Linked DNA regions of Homo sapiens. The protein of the gene in region 1 purifies or fractionates together with the protein of each later gene. This does not show direct contact. Each region holds a gene or a part of one and is shown on either strand. Other genes may lie near its edges. The genes, in order: SASH1 and FOXP1.

The links.
Region 2: the proteins of SASH1 (region 1) and FOXP1 fractionate together in Homo sapiens (co-fractionation; one large-scale study listed by BioGRID). This does not show direct contact.

Annotation. Positions count from the first base shown.
Region 1 is NC_000006.12:148,541,684-148,545,505, reverse strand, and holds part of SASH1 (SAM and SH3 domain-containing protein 1), read right to left. Parts: intron 1,827-3,822; coding exon 688-1,826; intron 1-687. UniProt on the Homo sapiens protein: Is a positive regulator of NF-kappa-B signaling downstream of TLR4 activation. It acts as a scaffold molecule to assemble a molecular complex that includes TRAF6, MAP3K7, CHUK and IKBKB, thereby facilitating NF-kappa-B signaling activation.
Region 2 is NC_000003.12:70,971,473-70,975,294, reverse strand, and holds part of FOXP1 (forkhead box protein P1), read left to right. Parts: intron 1-2,618; coding exon 2,619-2,740; intron 2,741-3,114; coding exon of another isoform or gene 3,115-3,284; intron 3,285-3,822. UniProt on the Homo sapiens protein: Transcriptional repressor. Can act with CTBP1 to synergistically repress transcription but CTPBP1 is not essential. Plays an important role in the specification and differentiation of lung epithelium.

The DNA.
Region 1 (3,822 bases):
ATCTGCTACAAGTGATACCACCAGCTCACTAGGCCAGCATTTACTGTATGGTCTTTCTCACTACCTTTCATTTAAAGACATTCACTCAGGAAATATCAAGGAGGGTCAGAGAGGTGGAGGAGGATCTGATTCTAAGGCATTCATTGTCATGAGAATTTTATAATAAAGGACTCTCAGGAATGCATCCTAATAGGACCTGTATTTCCAGGAGTAAAGTACTGCTGTATCTGTTAGCATTGCTTTGTCTTTGGAGTCACTTGGTATTGGTAGATCTCATTTTTTTTGAATGAGAAATAATTTTTCATTATACAGCTAAATGTTTTTGGTACAATGGGGGATTTTATATTATCTTTTTCCCATTACCCATACAGATAACTGTATAATACAATTATCACATCTGAATAGGGTTCTTTTGTCCACATTTATTTTATTTGCTCCTAGTAATCCCTCTAAGAGGTCTTCATGCAGGTTATTTTTAACCTCGGTTTACCTACGGAGAGATGAAATGGGGTGGTGTCAATATCTGAACACATGCATGTCAAGTAAGGTGTGGACACGTGGATTCAGGTGTCTCCTGTCCACTGGGCGGGCTACCGGGCTGGCTTCAGATGTGGGTTCATCTCACCTGGCTGCCTGACTTCTACAAACAAAGGCCTGTGAACGTGGTGGGCCCAGGACCTTTGATACCTTATCAGAATACGGCTCCTCCGTGAGATCGATGCCTTCAGCGTGCAGCTTGTTTTCAGTGAGCGTTTCTAGATCCACTCCCCGGGCACAGGAGACCTTCCTGGTCAAAGCCGGGCCCAGCTTCACACCGTGCTCCTGGAGGCTTGTGTTCTCGGGGAGCTCTGAGAGCCAGGGGGGCGGCCTTGTGCTTGGTGGGCTGCCAGGCGCCTGCCCTGAGAGAGGCCTGGGAGCCAGTGCTGGGGGACAGTCGCTAGGGCTGGTGGGGCTGGCGGGGCTGCCCCTTTTCACTGGCAGGCATGGCGCATCGGGACTGGGGAGGGCCCCACTGGGGCCCATGGGAACAGGGTGGAGTCCGTTAGCAAGGCGTTCTCTGCTCTTTTTGGCAGGAACAGGTGGAGGCTGTGATGGAATTTTGGGCTGCATTCTCTGCTCAGCATCTACCCCTTCTTTGGTGCCCAGGGGATGGTGTGTTCCTTCAAACTCGTGTCCTTTTCTGTGGCCCTCCAGAGGCGTCCTTGCTAAACCGTGTTTAGCTCCAGGAGGCTGAGCATCATAGTTTCTGGGCAAACACTGAGGGGGTGACAGGCCGCGACCAGAGGCTGCGATTGAGCCCTCCAGTTTCTTAGTTGTCAATTTCTGAGGTTCAGAAAATCTCTTGCTTTGGGTCAGTAGCAATGCATTGTCGACAGCAGAGTCTTGCTCCAGGGGCTGGGCCTTCGTGGAAGAGGCGGTCGTCTTCTGTGGCACTTCAGGTACAATCTGAGGGGGCGGTTCTGTCACCTCGGTAGGCACGTCTTGCTCAGCACCAGGCTCCACTTGAAGGTCATCCAGGGAATGGGATCGGGGCCAAGTGTCCACAGTCTGGGGGCCCTCCAGGGTCTCACAGCTCCGGCAGATGGAAACTGGGAGGCTTCTTCGGTTTTTATTCAAACCAGTCACACCAGGTGGGTCACAGCTCTTGGACGTGTCTGGGGCAAGGCCACCACCCAGCCTGCCCTCCTCCTGTCCCTGCTTCAGTGCATCCCCTGATTTCATTAAAGGCAATGTTGGGTAATTGCCCAACTGGTTTCTGCTAAAAGACTTCAAGCTGGGCTCGGTGGATGACTTGGCAGATAGGAGGCTAGCTTTCCGAGTCTTGCCTGTGAGACAAGGGAATATTTTACAATCACATTTTAAAAGCAAATCAATCAAACGGATGCATAAAGTTGTGCTAACATAATTGAAATCTCCAACACCCACATCCTATTGTTCAATTACACTAAAAACATAAAATCACCATTTATGACATCGGGTGATAGAGGGTTATTATGGTTCCATTTTTATTTTTAGAAAGAATTCTTAGTCTTATTAAAGGAATCATGAAGACTGAAATTAATTGGGTTACATGGGAAAGAAATACGCTGTGTCAAGCAGTAAAATAAATCTTGGCTTAAGTCTGTGCCCCACTGCAATCGACGTGGAAAGAGGCTGATCATCATACCGCATATTGATGAGATTTGTTGGGTGAGTACAATTTCTCAAGGTCATGATGGAAAAGGAGAGCTGGACTGAATTTCACAACAGGTTCTATAAATGGTATCCCCTACAGAGTGATCTGTGAATACTCAAATCCCACCTTCCCTGAAGCCCCTCCTTCTAGTAAGTTTATCCTAGAAGCAATCAACCAACCTGGACACAGACAGGTAAACTTTTGTGAGTACTTTGCCAAAGAAAATCTACAAAATACTGATAAAGTTTTAGGTCCCAGCAAAGCAACAGTCCTAGTTACAACTGCCAGACTGATAACTGAACTATCAACCAGACATAATCTACTTATCTGACGACTGGTAGTTGATACTAAACTGCTGCTGTTGGATAAGCTTTGCCAAGAACTTACAATTCATGGGCCAGACAATGTGCTGAATGCTTTGTTCTCATCAGTACTTACATGTGCGCGCGCACACACACACACACACACACACACACACTGTCCCTTGTTACATTTTTGGTTGATAACATGTTTGTTGTGTGCTTTGACCCTGTCCACCTGTATGTTCCACACTGATAAACACCAACATGCTATGCATTTGTAGGATATTATTGTTGTTACATAAAGATCATCAGCCTAGTGCTACTACTGAAGATATTGACCATGGTCCTACTTTTCATTATTAGAAAAATCATCACAACTTAAGGAGGCCAAGGCAGGTGGATCACGAGGTCAGGAGATCGAGACCATCCTGGCTAACACGGTGAAACCCCGTCTCTCATAAAAAATATAAAAAATTAGCCGGGCATGGTGGCAGGCGCCTGTAGTCCCAGCTACTCGGGAGGCTGAGGCGGGAGAATGGCATGAACCCGGGAGGTGGACCTTGCAGTGAGCCAAGATCGCGCCACTGCACTCCAGCCTGGGCGACAGAGCGAGACTCCGCCTCATAAAAAGAAAAGAAAAATCATCACAGATAAATGAAGAAATACCTCTTCAGAAAAAAAAAATTGCATCAGATTTTAAAAGTGGGTTGAAATAGAAAATTATTAGAACCTCTTTAGCATAAATTTAGAAATATGACTTTCTTTTCCCTTAACTCCCAATATAAAACTATATATATAAGTTCCATTTTTGCATTCTGCATTACATTAGAAAGATCCCTGAACTTACTTTGAGTTCAAAGTATGGTTCGCTAGCAATCTAGTTCTTCAGCAGGTACACCTGAATTCATTTGGGCATGAAAAATTCTGCCAGTGATATCTGTGAGATCCTTACCAATCACCAACAGTTGGGGGAATTAATTTCCTGAAAAGTTTTGGATATGAAAAGGTTATTAAGAGAAAAAAAAATTCTTCAGAACCTACATGAGCTACATAAGGATTCTGATGTTTACTGAAACTGAGGATGTACTGGGATACTAGGTGAGTTTTGCATCCTGTCTTGACCGAGGCTATCTGAATATTATATATAGTTTGGGGAGAACTACTATCTTCCCAAGTTGATAGAAAACCTTGAATAGCAGGGCATCATGGCTCAAATTCTGAGGTCCCCAAGATGCTTCTTAGAATTGGAATTAGAGTGAGGCAAACAAGGTGCCCAGAGGACAAACTCTAAGGAGGTGAATGCCCAGAGTCATGTGAGTGCAGGGCTGGTACCCGAGAGTGAGC
Region 2 (3,822 bases), on another chromosome or scaffold:
TAGCCATGAATGCTTTAAAAAATTTAGGAAGTCGAAGCATGAGGCAGACATTTTCTTCAGATTGCCTTTTATAAATAGAAATGATGAAATTTAAAAATAATTACCAGTTGTGAATATAATATTTAAGCTTAGATCTTCAGATTGCACTTTTTCGTTTTGCAAACTGCAGGAAAAAGTGTCATTAATATAAACAGCCTTAGATGAAATAGTGACTCATAAATACGTATAATTTTCTGTACGTGTCCTTGTTTGTACCATGATCTTAGACAAAAGATGAAATGCCCAGTTAAGGTTATGACTGAAAAGAGCTTACACATCTTTTTTTTGAAAACTCTTGACTTCTCGTCGCTTTCTGCTTAGATGTGCAGTTTTGGAAAACAGAACTGAAGTTTTGGCTTTGTGTCTTTACTCACATGGTTATATTGCTCAACCTGATCTACAGAAATTATTTTGTCAAAAGTAGCTTTAAGACCTTTCATTTCTGTACATTTTGATACTTATTTTAAAGCATCAAGCAGTGATTAGGATTAGGAGCAATGTTGACTTCTTTTCAAGTTATATCTCTTACATGTGTCATGCCCTGTCTGGATTTTTAAAGGAAATTGGCTCTGTCCGTTTATTTATACCACCTCAATTTTGTTCCAGTAAGTAACAGTAGACCTTCTATTGTATGCCTTTGGGCAATATATTTTTTTAAAATGCAGCCAAATGCAGTGGCTCCTGCCTGTGATCCCGGCACTTCAGGAGGCTGGAGGATCACTTGAGCCCAGGAGTTCAAGATCAGCCTGGGCAACATAGCAAGACCCCATCTCTACAAAAAATTTTTAAAATTAGCTGGGTGTGGTGACACATGTCTCTAGTCCCAACTACTCAGGAGGCTAAGGCAGGAGACTCGCTTGAGCCCAGGAATACAAGGCTTCAGTGAGCCATAATTGAACCACTGCACTGCAGTCAGGCAACAGAGCAAGACCTAGTTTCAAAAAAAGAAAAAAAAAAACTGCTTATTTAGACTAGACTGCAGTTTATATGCATAGAAAATTGTCCTATCAAGTGTATGACATGCCAAATGTTTTCGGTTTAGAGATTTTTATTTTTAAGCAAATCCTTCTTCCAACTTTTTTGAATCAGGAGTGTCCTTTCATAGTCACCTGGGTATCTTGAACCGACCTCAATTATGCTGACATTACTCAAAAACTTTTTGGGAATTTATCCTGTGAATTCTCCTTTCAAGCAATTCATCACACCATGCATTAAAAAACTTGTCTCATTATCTTCTAAATATTCCATATCAGAAAAGAAAAATCATTATGTAGCTTGAATCCTCACAGCCACCAATTGTGATTGTCCAAAAACTGAAGCACCTCTCAGAGTATCAAGATTCACCACCGTTAAGGATAATTCAGGAAGGAAATACTCCAGGTGGCAGAATGGGATGTGTTGGGGGGTGGGGGGGGGGGGGCGGTGTGCAAAACGCTTGTGCAATAGCAGTGTTGCTGGAATTGAGTGAGGACTTTACCCAGTGTGATGTATGTATCAACTTCTCAAGCCCCAATTGAGTCACCTACTATTGAGTCATCTACTTACTCTGAATAAGAAGAAAATTTTAAGTAAATGACCTGAATCTCTTTAGAATGTCTTCATGTCCAGCGTTGAGTCTGGATCCGTAAGTTTAACCAGGCGGGACTAAAGAAATGAAGCCTTGCTTGTTACTGTACCCAGTAAGGGTTGGGGATTCTTCTGAAACCCAAAGGAAAGATGAGATATTAAAAGCTCTTCACCCTTGAGTTGAGATCCTCCTTTTTGATAAATTATCGATGTTAAGGGTCTCAGCTTAGGAATGGCCAGAAAGGACTTTTAACCATAAGCAAGATATGTCTGCAGAAACCATCAACTGTAGGAATATAGTCATTTTGCCATTGAGAGTTCCACTCGTGTTCCTTTGGCATTTACTCAGTTAAAATACTTGCCGATAGTTAGGGCCAACTCTCATATTCTGGAAGGTGAGACATAACATGATAGCTACTGATCTCTTGACCGGGGCGGGGCGGGGCGGGGGCGGGGGGTCCGTTCACCACCCCCCGATCCTTTGACTATACAAGGCGATACTCTCAACGGTAAAATCCACTTTAGAATTCTTCATAGGACCTCTGGAAGTTTTAAAAGCCAGAAGCCATCAAGAACAAAACTGTATTTAGCAGTATTAACCAAGTGTTCCTCTTTCGTGGTTTGAAAAAAATACCCCCTTTTTATGGGAGGTAGGTGGGCTTAAAAAGGGCAGTTTCATACTTTGCATGTGTTGTTTTGAAGTCACAGTAACATTTTCAGATTTGTACTCTGGAACCTATTTTGGGCTTGTATGCATATTAAAAAATATTTCTGCTGGTCAGTTATTACCAGAGACTAGACGAAAATGCCAAAGTACGATTAATTTATAATTTTGGTTTATTTTTGCTTTTGGAAAAGACATCCTTAACCATGAGAAGGTCCTCCACGGGGGTGGTAGCTACAGCTCTTGGGGATGGTTTTACAAATGTGGACTGTTAGGCTGAATTTACTGCTGTTTTTGGAGTCTTTTCTTATAGAAAATGTAAATGTTCTCTCTTTTATACTTGCTGCAGAATGCAGTGCGTCATAATCTTAGTCTTCACAAGTGTTTTGTGCGAGTAGAAAACGTTAAAGGGGCAGTATGGACAGTGGATGAAGTAGAATTCCAAAAACGAAGGCCACAAAAGATCAGTGGGTACGTCCACCATGTTTGAACTTCTTAGCCTAGCTTGGATTGTGCTAACAAGTATAACGTAGAGGCTTTGGCTGCTAGATGGTGTTAGACCAAAGAACTGGTTTCACGTTGTCTCAGTTAAGGGAAGCAAAAAAGCATTTCATCCCTCCTGTTTTGTATACCCACCAGTCCCCCTGCCCTGCTTGCTGGTCTTTGTTGCATCACATGCTAGTAGCTTTTAGGTGGCAATGCATATTAACCCTCACAAACCATTTGCTTATGCTTATTGCATTTTATTTTCTTTTTCCTGTTCCCTGTATTGGATGTCTGTTCTGCCCCCAACCCCGTCTCCTTTTGTTGCCACTCCATCTCCTTTGCTGCTGCTCCTATCCCAGGGTGCCATTCGCACCAACCTCTCACTGCATAAGTGCTTTATCAGAGTAGAGGATGAGTTTGGGTCCTTTTGGACAGTTGATGATGAAGAGTTTAAACGTGGCCGCCATATTCAACGAGGCCGTCCTCGCAAATACTGCCCCGATGAAAACTTTGACGAGCTTGTCGCACAGTAAGAGCCTTTACTTGCTTTTGTTTTTTTTTTCTGCTGTTGCTTTGGCTTTGCATGGTTGACTCATCCCATGTAGTTTTGCATTTCACCAATAGCAGTGCCACAGCTTTCTGCAACGAAACTAAATTGTGTGATTTGTACATGTATTGCTCTCGTTTCTCTTTGGAACACCAGTGCCTTGAATAATGCTTTTTTGACGTCTTTAATGCAAATATTCGTTCTATTTTGATTCAGCAGCTTACGGGGACCCTAGAACTAAATACTTGTGCTTAACCCATAATCCCCCCTCTCTCCCCACCCCAAGTAAAAAGGGAATTTTTGGTTAGTTAAAATGTGTGTATATACTATTGGGGTAGATTTCTTATTTGTTCACTCACTATAATAATACAAATGTAATGAAGTGAATGACTAAAATGTTCCAAGCATAGTAAAGAAATAGGTCATATTGCATACACTTCCTTTAAAGACCACTGATAAATGTAGGTAATTGCCTACTGGGAGGCACCCTTTTCCCTCAGTATGCCCTATGTAATTTTTT